Regions from separate parts of the Homo sapiens genome. Here region 2 is linked to region 1. The links come from fine-mapping of genetic effects on gene expression. Tissue or cell type: lung. Region 1 holds a variant in brackets; the other region holds the start of a gene. All regions are shown on one strand. Distances are from middle to middle. Region 1 holds the start of LOC124904610 (a long non-coding RNA gene). Region 2 holds the start of BTBD2 (BTB domain containing 2).

The links.
Region 2: BTBD2 starts here. The variant in region 1 is fine-mapped to the expression of BTBD2 in lung (GTEx, PIP 0.93).

The regions. Positions count from the first base shown.
Region 1 is chr19:1,984,898-1,993,214 of GRCh38, forward strand. It overlaps BTBD2 (BTB domain containing 2), which reads right to left. Exons shown (of 9, transcript NM_017797.4): 3 at 8,123-8,279; 4 at 5,820-5,925; 5 at 5,107-5,304; 6 at 2,603-2,795; 7 at 2,269-2,356; 8 at 1,933-2,079; 9 at 551-1,752. The coding sequence ends at 1,591. It overlaps LOC124904610 (a long non-coding RNA gene), which reads left to right and starts at 2,795. Exons shown (of 2, transcript XR_007067086.1): 1 at 2,795-3,597; 2 at 4,061-5,473. The variant C/T (reference allele first, on the strand shown) is at 3,548.
Region 2 is chr19:2,010,993-2,019,309 of GRCh38, forward strand. BTBD2 (BTB domain containing 2) reads right to left here and starts at 4,722. Exons shown (of 9, transcript NM_017797.4): 1 at 4,305-4,722. The coding sequence starts at 4,711. LOC107985278 (a long non-coding RNA gene) reads right to left here. Exons shown (of 4, transcript XR_001753845.2): 3 at 6,191-6,308; 4 at 5,353-6,102. RefSeq lists silencers at 1,312-1,503, 4,319-4,368, 4,379-4,528.

The DNA of each region.
Region 1 (8,317 bases):
GGGGTTTCACCATGTCGGCCAGGTTGGTCCTGAACTCCTGACCTCAGGTGATCCACCCGCCCGGCCTCCCAAGGTGCTGTAATGACGTGTGAGCCACCACGCGGCCTTGCTGCCGGGTTTCTTGATGTCTTGCCCTGCACGTGTGCTCCTGAGGCAGCAGCCAACGGCTTGACTTCTCTGGCCACTGAGGCCACAACTGGGCACTCCCTGCTTTCTCTCCATCTCTCACATCCACGGTCCCCCAGCAGCCAGCAGGGCCTCCCCACGGGGAAATCGGCACACACGTCCATTGCATTTGGGTTTGGGGGGAGGTGTTGAGTTAGTTAGGGTCTTGCTCTTGCCCAGGGGGGAGGGCAGTGGTGCATCACTGCTCACTGCAGTCTCGACCTCCCGGGCTTCAGTGTGGCCTGTGGGTACTTAAGGAGGGTCTCGCAGCACTGGCGACCAGACCCGGGGTTCAGGGCCCCTCTCGGCGCACGACATCCCTCGCCCACTGCAGCCCGGATGACAGGGCAGAGAGTGAAGGGGAGCAAAGCAGTGTGCGCTCAAGGCAGGTGCATTTGTTTCTTTATTTAAAAAAATCATCTGGGGGCATGGTCTGAGGAGGACACCCCTCCCATGGCTTTGGGGAGGACGCAGGTTCCAGGAGTCACAGGGCAGAAACACGCGGGGTGGGTGGGGGCGTGGCCGGAGTGGGGAGGGGCTGTGCCCCCAGCACCTGGGGGTGGCTCCCACGGCACCAGGTGGGCTAGGGCAACAGTATGTACAGGCGAGCAGTGCTCCTGGACCCGGTCGGGGCCGGCTGGGGCCCCATTCTGCGGCAGGGGAGCTCTGGGGCACAGGGTCTGAGTCCCATCTTGGGCTGCAGGGACCGCGAGGGCCGTCCAGGGAGGCTGGACAGCGGGGGCCTTTATCTGGGCCCATCAGGTGGATGAGAACGGACACTGCAAACCGCTCACCACCTGGGCCAGGGCTAGGCCTATCCGGCAGGGGCCGTCCCCACACTGAATCCTGCGTGCGCAGAACTCAAGCCGGCATCCAGGCAGTGGGAACGCCCCGCAGGCTGGGCTTGGGTGGCCTCGGGCACGTGACAGGTGGGGCCCGTGTCCTGATAAACGGACAGGAACAAAAGGAACGCAAGGTCTGGGACCCACGGCTCTGGGAGCAGCGCCACCCAGGCTGGCTCCTAGCAGAGAAATGGGAATCGCAAATGCATTGCAATGTGCAGTGAAGAGACGCGAGGGACGCCCGCGGCGCACCGCCGGCAGACGACGTGGGCAGGCGCCCTGAGCTGCGGGTCCGTGGGCCCTGGCCCAGGCCGGCACAGCCCTGTCCCTAGTCCTGAGGGATTGTCTCCACAGGGCCTGGCCACTGGCCTGGCCACCTCCCCGGCTGCCCTGATCCAGCAGCCACACTCGTGGTGAACACAGGGCAACCCCGTCCTGATGCTGAGAAAGGTGGCATGGAGTGGACAGACGGCCTGGGGGACACTGGGCCTGGCACCGCGTGGTGGGGGGGCCCCAGCAGCAGATGATGGCCTGGGGCTGCGGCTATCCCCACGGAGGGAGGGCGGTGTCGGTGTCGGGCAGCCTAGGTGTAGAAGATGACCTCGGGGATCTGGCCGTCCTCCACGGATGTGCCATTGTTGTTCCCGGCCGCGTAGCAAAAGGTGAAGCAGGTCTTGGCGCCCGTGGTGGGCGACTCGTGTGTCACCTTGCGCAGGCCTTTGGTGCCGTAGTGGGAGTCTGGGCCCTGTAGGGAATAGGGGTACAGTGAGGTCAAGGACCACCAGGCTGGGATGCCCCAGGTGTGGACAGGGCAAGGCCCCGACTGGGCCAGGGTGGCTGCCTCTGGAGAGTGTGTGCTGTGCCCCGGTGGCTTCAGGATGGGCCAGAGACTCCCACGGAGGGACCCCTGTCCCCGGCGGCGCACCTTGAGCGTGGCACAGGCCGTGTAGTTGACGTTGGGCAGCACCTCCACCGGCTCCTTGAACATGACGCGGAAGGTGCTGGCTGAGCCGTCGCAGCTGAAGCCCGTGTCGTTCTGGCCCAAGACGGTGTTGCTATCGGTGTGAATAATCTGCGGGGAGGTGGGAAGTGGGAGGCTCAGGCCTGGGGAGGGCCAACGGGGACCCCTCGAGGCCCAGCCCACCTGCCCAGGGTGGGGGCAGCACAGGGACCAGGGCCGGGGGTTCAGCCAGGGTTCCATGGAGGTGGAGAGAGGACATGGGCCTGAGTGGGGCCTGGGGATGAGGCTTGGGGCTGGTACCTGGATGTTCACTTGGTAGTCGGTGGGCCCGTGGATGGATCCATACAGCCCAAATCCCACCACGAAGATGCGCTTGTTGACTGAGAACCTGCCGTGGCAGATGACAGGCAGCAGCGTGGATACCCAGGGATAGCCTAAGGTGAGCTGGGGCGAGCCCACCCCCATGCCCGGTCCCCTCCATCGTCCCTGAGTCCTCCACCCCCATGCCCGGCGGCCCCCCCGCCGTCTTCATCATCCCTGAGTTCTCCACCCCCATGCCCGGCCCCCCATCTCCGTCATCCCCGAGTCCTCCACCCCCATGTCCGGACCCCCCCGCCTGCACCCCAAGCCCCACCTGATGCGGTCACTGGTCCCGCTGTAGCCCCAGCGACTCTCCACCTGCTGGAAGCGGTTGATGCTGCACTCCTTCCCACGCAGGCAGCAGCGGGGCCGGTCAATGAACTCCACTCGTGGCTTGGGGTTGACGGTGAAGTGCAGGAAGAGGCTGACCACCTCGCGGTCCACCAGGATGCCCGACTGTGCGGGACCTGCAGCACAGGGAGGGTGTGGGGGAGGGCCGGGCTGCACCCCAGGATCCCGAGTGCCTGGGAGGACACGCTCCTTCCCCCTAAGATGTCTGCGTCGGACTTTCAAGGTGCAGGGACCTGGGCAGCCCCTCCCCGGGGGACTAGCCACCAGCCATGGCCCCTGCTGCCTGGGCTTTTAGGGAGAGGTCCCAGGGCACAGACCAGAGGCCGACAGATACGCTCACTCAGGGGCGATGCCTCAGGGTCTGACAGATGCACTCACTCAGGGGTGATGTCTCAGGGTCTGGCCCCACTGTAGGGACCACCCGTCACTTCACTGTGGGTGGGGGCGGGGGGCTCCACTGCCTGTTCTCTCAGGGCCATTGGCTGGGAGGGGTCACTGTGGCTCCCTGCTAGGCCTGTACCCCCCAGGCTGCAGCCCTGGCTTCTAGAAGCAGTCTGGGGGTTCCTCTCCACGGTGGGCCCTAGGCAGACACCTTCTCAAGCGCTTACACCCCCAGGGGTGATGGCTAGCGGACCCCAGGCAGACTCCAAGAGCCAGGCTCTTAATCCCGGTGCAGAGATGTCACAGGCAGAGGGACTGTGCATGGGATGTGAAGGGGCTCTGGGTAGGGAGGGGAGGCCAGGAGGGGCAGAATTGGGGGTCCACCATCCACCCCCAGGAGTGCCAGGACACAGCACCCTCTGCTCTAATGAGAGCAGCCCTGCCTGCCTGAGACCTAATCACTCATCAACCAAGGTGGGCTCAACTC[C/T]GCATCGCTCAGCTGCAAGCCAGCCCAGTGCAGACACAGTTTAATAACTGGTGAGAAACAGACCATTATGGGTTAAGTGAATCAGGAAGACTGAGTATCAAAACTCAATAAACAATGTTAACAATTTTTTTTTTTTTTGAGACGGAGTTTCGCTCTTGTCCCCCAGGCTAGAGTGCAGGACGGAGTTTCGCTCTTGTCCCCCAGGCTAGAGTGCAGTGGCGTAATCTCGGCTCACCGCAACATCCGTCTCCAGGGTTCAAGCAATTCTCCTGCCTCAGCCTCCAGCATAGCTGGGTTTACAGGCATGCGCCACCATGCCCAGCTAATCTTGTATTTTTAGTAGAGACGGGGTTTCACCCTGTTGGTCAGGCTGGTCTCAAACTCCTGACCTCAAGTGATTCCCCCCATCTTGGGCCTCCCAAAGTGCTGGGATTACAGGAGTGAGTGACCCAGCCTGGCCAACAATTGTATATATTTTTTTATTTTAAATGGAGTTTCACTCTTGTTGCCCAGGCTGGAGTGCAGTGGCGCGATCTCGGCTCATCACAACCTCCACCTCCTGGGTTCAAGTGATTCTCCTGCCTCAGCCTCCCGGGTAGCTGGGATTACAGGCATGAGCCACCACACCCAGCTGATCAACAGTTGTATTTTTAAGAAGTATGTATCTAGCCAGGCTCGGTGGCCCATGTCCATAATCCCAGCACTTTGTGAGGCCGAGATGGGAGGATGGCTGGAGCCCAGTTCATGACCAGCCCAGGTGACATAGCAAGACCCTGTCCCCACAAAAAAATACAAATATAAGCCTTGTGTGGTGGTGGCACCTGTGATCCCAGCTACTCCGGAGTCTGAAGCAGGAGGATCACTTGAGCCCAGGAGGTCGAGGCTGCAGTGAGCTGTGATTGTACCACCGCACTCAGCCTGGGCGACAGAGACCCTCTTGCTAAATCTGGCGACCTTCAGCTAAGCAAGAGCGGGGGCCGCGTGGACCTGGGGAAGGCCAGACGGCGAGTGTGCACCAGCCCCAGGGCTCTGTCCCAGCCCCTTCTGGAAAGTTCCAGGCCTGTTTTGCTCCAGAGCTGGATGGCGTCAGGCAGTGAGCAGCCACGAGGGCAGGAGGCATCGTTAGCGCTGCCCCTTCACGTCACCCTGGAACCCAGGCCCTGCAGCAGGGGACCCCAAGGCCCACTCGGGCGCATGACAGCCACCCCGGCCATGTCAGAGCCCTCCTGAGCTCGTCACAGACACTGGTACCTGCACCAGCAGGTAGCACAAGGGCGCGAGACGGGGACTCCCTTCCCTCCTGGGAAGATGCCACCAAAACAGCTGGACAGACACGAGAGGCGGGGTCTGGCAGTGTGCACGGTGGGGACAGAGCCGGGCCGGGGCTAACAGATGGCCCTGTGGACGCGTCCTCACAAGCCAGGTTTCTTCCTATCTGTATATGCCAGGCATCTGCCAGGCTTTCCGCAGTGAACTCGGGGGCACTATCCTCGGTACCCAGATGCCCACCTGTGTGCCACTCCCCTCCCAAACCAGCCCCTGAGCCCGAGCTCTGTTACCTGCAGCGAACTCCTCGATGGTCATGAGCGGGAAGCGAATGAGGCCCAGGGCCTTGCCCAGAACCTTCCGCCTGTTCTCTGGCGTCACCTGCAGCTGCTGCCGCTGACACTCGGCCTCGGACCAGCGGACAACGGCATTGAACAGCCGCACCTCACGGATGCCCAGTGTGTCGCGCTCCAGGACAGCCACCAGCGTGTCTGTGGGGTGGAGGAAGGGGCTGCGTGAACACGACACCCACATGCCCACCCTGCAGGAGGCAGTGAGACTAACGTGAGGACCAGCAGTTAAAGCCGGGCTGGCAACTATGGCCCGTGGCCCAAATCTGGCCCTGTGAGTGTGTTTATAAATAAAGCTTTATCAACACAAGACCACGCCCCTTCATTTTCCTCGGCTGTGGTTGTTTTTAAGCCACAAGGACAGACTTGAGTAGCTTTGACAAAAGCTGTTCAACAGCAAAGTCAAAGCCATGGACCATCGGAGGACGAGATGGTCACCATCAGCTGGGATGGTGGGCTCTGGCCTGTGGCCTCCTGGCCAAGGCCCCGGACTCCCGTGGGGCTGTGCTAGGACCCAAACTCCTGACCTGCTGCAAGTGGTGAGGCCCCAGCTCACCTGTGCAACTCCCCCAGGCCCAAAGCTCCCACTGTCAATCCCCGGACCCTCCCGCCGAGGCCCCGCTGGGATTCCCACACCTGGGCTCCTGGGCCCTTACCCAGGTCAATGTCGGTGAAGCCCTCCGCGGTGATGGCGTCTGCAGTGTTTTTGTCGATGTTCTCCAGGCACAGGCTGGCCAGCTGCGGTTCATCGAAGAGTCGCGCCTGGCAAGAGACATCGACGGGGGGCGCGGTGGGGACATCAGCACCCAGCCCTCGGCAGATCCCCAGTGCGGGGCCGGTTCAAATGCAGCCCTGACCACACGGGCCTTCCTGAGCGTGGCCAGGAGCCACCAGGGTCTCAGCCACCAGGCCGGCCCTGTTGTGGGCCCAGAGACTCCCCTGTGACCGCTGACTGGGGCGGGAGAGTTGGGGAGTTCCCTCTCAGGACCTCAGAGGCCAAGGAAGGAAGAAAAAGATGCTCAGGTCCCTGTCGGCAGGGCCTGCTGCTTTAGGCAAAAGGGGCGTTGCAGCTGCACTCGGGGGGCAGCAGGGCCCAGGACCCCGAGTGGCAGGCAGAGGTGAGGTGGCCGGGGCCGACCGGTGAAGCTTCCCGACCACAACATGCCCTTGGCCACTTGTGGTGGGAGGGGCCGTGTCCCCGGCAGCTCCATCCCAAGACAAACAGCAGACATGACTTCTGACAGTCAGGTGACAGAGCTGGAGGACGCCTGTGCTCTTAGGGAAACAGAGGCTTAGTTAGTGGAAGGTGCTGGAAGGGCCTATGCCAGCAGGGACCCGGGCAGGCCTTTCTGCGGGCATCCTCCCGAGGACACCTCTCAAGTGGGTTCGTAGTGGTTTTAGGGGCAGGGAGGCTGAGGCAGCCACAAGATGAAGCCCGGGGAGTGAGCTCCAGCCTCCTCTCAGCTCAGGCAGAGGCCTCTCCAGCAAGGCGACCAGATGACCCGGACAAGAAACCCCTCCCTGTGGGAGTCCGGGATGCCCTGCATCTGACCTGCCAGGATGGAGGGGGAGAAGGTTCTGGGTCCTTTCCAGGATGCCGGACCCCCAAAGCCCATTGGAGGACCCAGTGCCGCTGTCCCCTCTGGCCACCCTCCACCCCCGACCAGGAGCTCACGGCTCCCAAGCGGCCGTCCACCCGTACTGGCCCCACGTCCTCTCAGCCTCCCTGGCCTGCACGACCTCCCCAGCCCCCGCCCTTTGGGCTGCACAGAGCCCAACTGGGGTCCCCTGAGATCCCTGGCCCTGCTCTGTCTACCTGACATTTCCTTAGAGAGAGAGAGAAAGTTCTCTCTGGTTTTTTTTTTTCTTTTTTTTTAGCCAGGCGCGGTGGTGGGGGCCTGTAATCCCAGCTACTGTGGAGGCTGAGGCAGGAGAATCGCTTGAACGCTGGAGGCGGAGGTTGCAGTGAGCTGAGATCGTGCCATTGCACTCCAGCCTGGGCAACAAGAGAAACCCCGTCTCAAAAAAAAATTATTTTACTTTTTTTTTAGAGACAGGGTCTCACTCTGTCACTCAGGCTGGAGTGCAGTGGCGCCATCTCCACTCACTGCAGCCTCAACCTCCCGGGCTCAGGCAATCTTCCTGCTTTGGTCCCCCAAGTAGTTGAGATTCCAGACATGCACCAGCGTGCTTGGCTAATTTATGAAATATTTTTTTTTAGTAGAGATGAGGTTTCACCATGTTGGCCAGGCTGGTCTCAAACTCCTGACCTCTGGTGATCTGCCTGTCTCAGCCTCCCAAAATGCTGGGATTACAGGCATGAACCACAGTGCCCGGCCTGAATCTTTTTTTAATTTTTTGTAGAAACGGGGTCTCTCTATGTTGCCTAGGCTGGTCTAGAACTCCGGGCCTCAAGCAATCCTCCCTACTTGGCCTCCCAAAGTGCTGGGGTTACAGGCGTGAGCCACCGCACCCTGCCAATAATTTTTTGAAGTATCACGGAAAAGTCCAAAACACATCTTTTTTTTTCAGGTGGAGTCTCGCTCTGTCATGCACGCTGGAGTGCAGTGGTGCGATCTCGGCTCACTGCAACCTCCACCTCCCAGGTTCATGCAATTCTCCTGCCTCAGCCTCCCAAGTAGCTGGAATTACAGGTGCCCGCCACCACGCCCGGCTCTTTTTTGTGTTTTTAGTAGAGATAGGATTTCGCCATGTTGGCCAGGCTGGTCTGGAACGCCTGAGCTCAGGTGATCTGCCCGCCTCGGCCTCCCAAAGTGCCGGGATTACAGGCGTGAGCAACCACGCCCGGCCCAAAACACATTTTACTACCAGGCAGGAGCCTGCTGCCTCCCGGGCCCGCCCCCGGCCCCGCCTCCGCCTCCAGCCTCGGTCCGCCCCACCCCGGCCCCGCCTCCAGCCAGGCCTGGCCCCGCCCCCGCCTCGTACCGGCCCCGCCCACCTGCGTGAGCAGCATGAAGGCGTTGTCGGCTCGCAGGTTCTTCTTCAGGAACTCCACGCAATGGGCCTCGAGCGCTGGCACCGCGTACTTCTTGGCGGTGTATAGCGTGGTCATCACCGTCTCCGGGCCAATCTGCACCTCGTCCGAGTAGAGAAACCTGCAGAAGCAACGCGGGTGGCCGTGAGGTGGGACCGC
Region 2 (8,317 bases), 26 kb after region 1:
CGGGTCCGTTTGTTCCCACAGCCCCAGGACAGATGTGTCTGAGTGACCTTGTTTCAATCATGGAAACTGAGGCACAGAGCACTTGGGACACACTGCTCTGCGGACCTCTCAGCCCCAGGTCCCGCCAACACATCCAAGCCAGTACTTGTCCCTCCTGAGCCTGTCCTGGCTTGTGATGCTCCAGCCAGAAGTCTGGGGACCCCCACCACAGCCCCCCACGCCCTCACCTGCCAAGCTGCCTCCTCTCCTGGCCACAGGAACTCGCTTCCTCCAAAGAGGACCTGCATCCTCTACCCCTCATTTCTGCCGTCCCCACCGAGCCCGCTGCTGTCTCCTGCCTGGAGTCTGCAGCTGCTACTCCCCAGCCTCGCTCCTGGGCCCATCCACGGCGCGTTCCACCCTCAATGCGGATCTGGTCACACTGGGCCACAGGGCCTCCCTCACTCCTCCTGCTCCGGCCTTGCCATGGCTCCCACCTGCCCAGCCCCTCTGGGCTCTGGGCCTTCCATCCCTGAGCCTGGGGCACTGCACTCTCCATCAACATCACTTGCTCAGGGGGTCGTTCTGGACCAGGTCAGTGCCCCCTCTCCATTTTCAACCCTCCTGAAATGCTAAGGAAACACAGATGACCTTTCAACAAGGCAGGCTTCAACTGCACAGGTCCACTCATATGTGAATTTTTTCAATAAAGGCTGCCCCAACGGTGCCGGCCTCTCCTGCCTCCCCTTCCACCTCTGCCACCCCGGAGACAGACCCACCCTCCTGCTCCTGCTCCTCAGCCCTCAATATGAACACAAGGACACAGGCCTTCATCGTGGCCACCTCCACTGTGTGAACAGCAAACAGGATTTCTCCTTTTATTTTTTTTCCTTTTTTTTTTGAGACAGAGTCTTGCTCTGTCGCCCAGGCTGGAGTGCAGTAGCGCAACCTCGGCTCACTGCAACCTCCGCCTCCCGGGTTCAAGTGATTCTCCTGCCTCAGCCTCCCAAGTAGCTGGGACTACAGTTGTGCACCACCACACCCGGCTAATTTTTTGTATTTTTAGTAGAGACGGTGTTTCACCACGTTGGCCAGGATGGTCTCAAACTCCTGACCTCATGATTCGCCCGCCTCGGCCTCCCAAAGTGCTGGGATTACAGGCGTGAGCCACCGCGCCCAGCCTGTCCTTTATTTTTTTTGAGATGGTGTGTCACTGTGTCGCCTGGGCTGGAGTGCAATGGCGCAATCTCGGTTCCCTGCAACCTCCACCTCCTGGGTTCACGAGATTCTCCTGCCTCAGCCTCCTGAGTAGCTGGGATTACAGGTGTGCGCCACCACGCCCGGCTAATTTTTGTATTTTTGTAGAGACAGGGTTTCACCGTGTTGACCAGGCTGGTCTCGATCTCCCGACCTCGTGATCTGCCCGCCTCGGCCTCCCAAAGTGCTGGGATTCCAGGCGTGCGCCCCCGCACCCGGCCCCTTAGACTTTTCTGAATGTATTTTCTGTTCTCCAGCCTGTTATTGTGAGAACAGGAGGCTGGTGTGCATTGACCAAGTGTCCTCACAAGGCCTCCGGTCAGCGAGAAGCCATTCCTAGTTAAGTTCGTGGGAGTCAAAAGTTGTACTTGGATTTGAGCTGAGTGGGGGTCCACGCCCCTAACCCCGCATGTCGAGGGTCCGCTGTCCCAGGCCCGCCCACCTTACCTTGCTGCTATCTCCCGCTGGGCCTCATTGCCCTCTCCTGAGCCCCCCGGGGGCAGACCCCTCACCTACTTTTCTCCAAGGGGTCCTTGTCCTGCCTCCATCTTCCCCACTTTGCAACCGAGCCAGCGGTCCCTCAAGTGCAATCGCATACATGTCCCAAGGTCAGCCGGTGCCCGGGGCGCCCCACCTCCCCCCTCAAACAGAAAGCCTGGGATTCTCCAGCTGCACCTGCTGCTGGGTGAGTTCCAGCTGCATCCAACCTACCCCCTCCCCAAAGAGCACAAAGACCACCCAGGTGGAGGGAGCAAACCCACCGCCCCTCACTCCAAGCTAGGAGAGGCCCAGCAGCTAAGGACGACAGAGACAGGGACGGCGACACGGACGGCACAAGCCGTAGGAGGCCCCGGAACCCTCCAGGGGCAGGAACCTCTGCTAAGTACCGCCCAGGGCAGGACCCCACGAAAGGAGACCCAGCTGCCCATAAACACCCAGGAAGAAGCCAGAACACGTTAACAAAAGCACCCGAAGGTCAGAAGGGAGGGCAGGACCCTCCCCCTCCAGTGCCCGCAGCAAGAAAACCCAGCCCCTGCCCCCGACCAATGAGGGGCAGGGTAAGAGGGACCGGGGAGTGGAGGGAACCTGGGGCCTGGGGCCGGTACCCCGCACACTGGCAAAGACAGATACTGGGCCAAACCCACTTCTTTCCCAGAAAGGAGGGCTGGGGGCTGGGGAGGGAGGGACCCCGGAGCTGGGGGTCTCTGGGTTGGAAGGGCCCGGAGATGGGAGTCTGGGCAGGGGTCTAGGGTGGTGGCCTGGTGGCAGGGGATCATAGGATGGGGTGCAGGGGGTAGCAGGGCCCAGGGGAGACAACCTTCTGCAGAGTCCAGGGTCCAGAGCCTGGCAGTGGCGGAGCTGGAGGTGGGTGGTCACTGAAGTGGGAGGTGGCAGGGCCCAGGGGTCTCTGGCTGAGGTGGGGGTCCGGGGCTGGAGGGGCTGTGGATGGTAGTCTATGATCTGGACTGCAGGGCGGGCAGGGGGTATCCCTGGAGGGGAGCAGCATGGTTTGAAGGTCTCTGATCCAGATCATGTGCTGAGCCTGGGGGTCTCCGGTGGGGGTCACTGGGTCTGGAGGCAGCAGGGAGGACGCAGGGAGCAAGGCCTAGGGGTCTTGGCGCACAGGGGTGCGGGTGGGAGTGGCAGGGTCCCTGGATGGTGGGGGAAGAGGGAGGGGTCTTGTGGTCATGGGTGGGGGTGGAGGAAATAGCACGACCCCTGAAGGGAGGGGTCCTGGAGTTCAGGAGTCATAGGTTGGGGGTTACGGACTGAGGTGGTGAGGACTGGGGACGGGGGGTCTCAGGTGAGAGCGGAGAAGTCTCTCCATCCTGGGATGCAGGGGTGACACACTTGAGTGTAGTGGGGTCCCAGGGGGCCCCGGGAGTAGAGAGTGGAAGGGCAGTGGGCAGGGGTGAAGGACCTGGGGAAGGAGGGGTCCTGGAGAGTCCCTGGGTACAGGGACGGAGGGGTCACCAGTAGGGGTCCCAGGGGGAGAGGGGCGGCAGGCAAGGGTGCAGGGCCTGGGGATGGAGGGGTCCTGAGGATCCCCGGGTATAGGGATGGAGGGGTGTGGCATGTGGGGTCATGGGTCCTAGAAACAGTGGGTTGGGGTCCTGGGAATGGAGGAGCAGATAGGGGTACACGTCCCAGGGTTGGAGGGTCACAGGAGTCCCAGGGGTGGTGGGTGGGGGTGCAGGGCCAGGGCATGGAGGGGACCCAGGGATGCAGGCCAGGTGGGGTCCAGGGATGGAGGGGCCTGGGGTGTAGGCAGGGGTTCCAGCCGGAGGTGGAGGGGCCCAGGGATCTGGGGGCAGAGGTGTCTGGGGACCTGGGGTGCAGGGAGGGGTGAGGTCCAGGGATGGAGCGTCCTGGGGATGGAAGAATGGAGGGTCCTAGGGTGCAGGCGGGGGGTGGAGGGCCCTGAGGATGGGGTATTCAGGGTTCTGGGGTGCGGGCTGGGTGGGGTTTGAGGATGGAGGGGCCCAGGGGCTCCAAGTGCAGGCCGAGTTGGAGGGTCCCAGGAACGGAGGGTACCGGAGTGCAGGCTGGGTGGGTCCAGGGACGGAGGAGAGCAGGGGTCCCAGGGGTACAGGGCCTGGGATCCCGGGGAACAGGCTGGGGGCGCAAGCCAGAGGTGGAGGATCCAGGGGGGCCTGGGGATGGAGGGGTGCAGAGGCCCAGAGTGCAGGCCTGGTGGGGTCTGGGGACAGAGAGGTGCAGAGGCAGGGACAGAGGGGTGCAGAGCCCAGGGAACTGGGTGGAGTCTAGGGATGGAAGGGTGCAGGCCCCGGGGTGCAGGCCGGGTCGGTTTCAGGACCGGAGGGGTGCAGGGGTCCCAGGGACAGAGGGGTGCAGGGCCTCAGGTGCAGGCCCCGGGGTGCAGGCCGAGTTGGGTTCGGAGCCTGAGGATGCAGGGGTGCAGGGGTCCCGGGGACAGAGGGGTGCAGGGCTCGGGGATGGAGGGGTGCGGGGGTCTCGGGGACAGAGGGGTGCAGGGCCTCAGGTGCAGGGCCCGGGCAGCAGGCTGGGTGGGTCGGGGCCAGGGCTGGCGGGGTCGGGGCGCCCACCTGTGCGCGGGGATGCGCTGCGAGCTGAGCCCCTTGCCCACCAGGAAGTGCACGTCGCACAGCACCTCGTTGTTGAAGAGGAAGGCGAAGCGCTCCTGCACGGTGGGCTTGCTGGCCTGCCAGTTGTACGCGGCCTCGCGCTGCAGCGCCGCCGCCCCCGGGCCCGCCGCCTCCTCCGCCCGCTCCGCGCCCGCGGCCTGCGCGTCTGTCCCGGGGCCCGGCGGGGCGGGCGGCGTCGGCCCAGGGGCGGCGGCGGCGGCGGCGGCGGCGGCGGCGGCGGCGGCCGCGTTGCCGGGGGCCGGGGTGGCGGCGGCGTTGGCGCTGGGCCCGGGACTGCCCCCCGTGCCCGGGCCGACCCCGACCCCCGGCGGGCACGACGCACGCCCGCCGCTCCCACCCGCCGCCATTTTGTGGCTGCGGCGTGGGCGGGGGAGGGGAGGAGGGAAGGAGGGAGGGGAGGAGGGAAGGAGGGAGGGGAAAGGAGGAGAGTAGGGGGAGGAGGGGGAGGAGGGAGGGGAGGGGAAAAGAGGAGGGAGGGGAAAGGAGGGGAGGAGGGAGGGGAGGGGAAGCGGGAAGGAGGGAGGGGAGGAGAGGGAGGGGAAAGGAGGGGGAAGGAGGGAGGGGAGGAGAGGGAGGGGAAAGGAGGGGGAAGGAGGGAGGGGAGGAGAGGGAGGGGAAAGGAGGGGGAAGGAGGGAGGGGAGGAGAGGGAGGGGAAAGGAGGGGGAAGGAGGGAGGGGAGGAGAGGGAGGGGAAAGGAGGGGAGGTGGGAGGGGAGGAGGGAGGGGAGAAGGGAGGTGAATGGGGGAGGCTGTTGCAGGGGAGGGGACGGGGAGGAGAGGGAAGAGTAGGAGGGGCCTGTAGAGGGGAGGAGCTGGTGGAAGACCTCTTGCTCCACTCCCTAAGCATCCTGACCTGAAGCCCAGACTCCAGACCGAGGTCCAGAATTTGGGGTCCAGGCACCAGGCCCCAGACTCCAGACCGGGAATCCTAAACCCTGGAGCACAGACCTCAGTCCGGGATCCCAGGCCTCAGACCTTGAATCCTAGATCCCAGACTCTGAACCCCAGACTTCAGACTCCGGATTCCAGATCCCATACCTCAGACCCGGAACCCCCAACCCAAAGACCAAGCGCAAACTCCAGACCCCAGACCCCGGACCCAGGTGGCGGGCCTGCTCCGTGGCGCAGGCTCCGCTGTACAGAGACATAGCCTGAGGCCGGGAAGCTGCGGATGAGCGAGCAGGATGCAGGCCACGTGCACTGACACTCAGCAGACGCCCAGCACCCTCTCCAGGCCAGGTGTGGGGGGTGGTCAGTGTGGACGGAGCTGGGACTCCCCCAAAACGCTTACTACATACATAATGTCAAGGTAGACAAATGCCACAAAGATTGAGGAACCAGGTCGGGCGCAGTGGCTCACGCCTGTAATCCCAGCACTTCAGGAGGCCAAGGCGGGGGGTGCATCACCTAAGGTCAAGAGTTGGAGACCAGCCTGGGCAACATGGCAAAACCCTGTCTCTACAAAAAATACAAAAATTAGCCAGGCGCGGTGGCTCACGTCTGTAATCCCAGCACTTTGGGAGGCCGAGGCGGGCGGATCACCAGGTCGGGAGATCGAGACCATCCTGGTGAAACCCCATCATGGTGAAACCCCATCTCTACTAAAAATACGAAAATTAGCCAGGCTTGGTGGCGGGTGCCTGTAATCCCAGCTACTCGGGAGGCTGAGGCAGGAGAATCACTTGAACCTGGGAGGCGGAGGTTGCAGTGAGCCGAGACCGCGCCATTGCACTCCAGCCTGAACAACAAGAACAAAACTCCGTCTCAAACAAACAAACAAACAAACAAAACAAAACAAAAAAAAAACTAGGCGTGGTGGTACGCACCTGTTGTCCCAGCTACTCAGAAGGCTGAGACGGAAGCATCACTTGAGCCTGGAAGGTTGAGCTTTTGATGAGCTATGACTCCACCACTGCCCTCCAGCCTGGGCAACAGAGCAAGATCCTGTCTCGAAAAAAAAAAAAAACAAAGAAGAAAAAGAAAATAGGGTATTAAAAAAACCCAAGTGATAATGCTATTTTCAGTTCTCCAGAGTGGGTGGTTGAGGTAGTTACAATTTTTTTTTCTTTTTTCTTTTTTCTTTTTAGAGTCTCCCTCTATTGCCCAGGCTGGGGTGCAGTGATGGCGATCTTGGCTCACTGCAATCTCAGCCTCCTGGTTCAAGCAATTCTCCCGCCTCAGCCTCCTGAGTAGCTGGGGTTACAGGTACCCGCCACCACGCCTGGCTAAGGCTAATTTTTTTTTGTTTGTTTGTTTTGTTTTTGAGACAGTCTCGTTCTGTCGCCCAGGCTGGAGTGCAGTGGCGCGATCTTGGCTCACTGTAAGCTCCGCCTCCCAGATTCACGCCATTCTCCTGCCTCAGCCTCCCGAGTAGCTGGAACTACAGGCGCCTGCCACCATGCCTGGCTAATTTTATATGTGTGTGTGTGTATGTATATACATATATATATATATATATATATTTTTTTTTTTTTTTTTTTTTTTTTTTGAGACAGTCTTGCTCTGTCGCCCAGGCTGGAGTGCAGTGGCACGATCTCAGCTCACCACAACCTCCGCCTCCCGGATTCAAGCGATTCTCCTGCCTCAGCCTCCTGAGTAGCTGGGATTACATGCACCACCACGCCCGGCTAATTTTGTATTTTTAGTAGAGACGGGGTTTCTCCATGTTGGTCAGGCTGGTCTCGAACTCCCGACCTCAGGTGATCCGCCTGCCTTGGCCTCCCCAAGTGCTGGGATTACAGGCGGGAGCCATCACAGCCGGCCTCTAAATGTCAACTTTCTTATCTCTCATCTCATACATTTGCAAAGTGACATCTTTCCAGCCAAATCCTAAAGAGGACATCTGTGCAGTCCCTTCTAGATGAAGGTGCAGAACAGGCATACCTGCCATGGTGACAGAAATTAACAAAATGGTAGGTTGTCTGAGGAAAGGGTGAACTTTACGGAATGCTGAGATGTTCACGATTTTTTTTTTTTTTTTTTTTTTTTTTTTTTTTGAGATGGAGTCTCGTTCTGCCACCCAGGCCAGAGTGCAGTGGTGCAATCTCGGCTCACTGTAAGCTCTGCCTTCCAGGTTCATGCCATTCTCCTGCCTCAGCCCCCCGAGTAGCTGGGACTACAGGCGCCTGCCACCATGCCCGGCTAATTTTTTTTTTTTTTTTGTATTTTTAGTAGAGTCGGGGTTTCATCGTGTTAGCCAGGATGGTCTCTATCTCCTGACCTCGTGATCCGCCCACCTCGGCCTCCTAAAGTGCTGGGATTACAGATGTGAGCCACCGCGCCTGGACTTTTTTTTTTTTAAAGAGCTGTAGGCCAGCCATGGTAGCTCACGCCTGTAATCCCAGCACTTTCGGAGGCCGAGGCAGGCAGATTACTTGAGTTCAGGAGTTCGAGACCAGCCTGGCCAACATAGTGAAACCCTGTCTCCACAAAAAAATACAAAATTAACAAGGTGTTCTGGTGTGTGCCGGTAGTCCCAGCTTTTGGGAGGCTGAAGTGGGAGGATGGCTACAGCTGGGGAGGCTGAGATTGTGCCACTGCACTCCAGCCTGGGCGACAAAGTGAGGCCCTGCCTAACACACACGCACGCGTGCGCGCACACACAGGCACACACACACACGGGATCTCACTTTGTCGCCCAGGCTGCTCATGAACTCCTAGGCTCAAGCAATCTTCTCGCTAGGCCTCCCAAAACGCTGGGATTACAGGTGTGAACCACTCGGCCATGTGGAGATTTTTTTTTTTTTTTTTTTTTTCTTGAGACAGAGTCTTGCTCTGTCGCCCAAGCTGGAGTGCAGTGGCGCGATCTCGGCTCACTGCAAGCTCTGCCTCCCGGGTTAACACCATTCTTCTGCCTCAGCCTCCCAAGTAGCTGGGACTACAGGCGCCTGCCACCACGCCCGGCTAATTTTTTTGTATTTTTAGTAGAGACGGAGTTTCACCGTGTTAGCCAG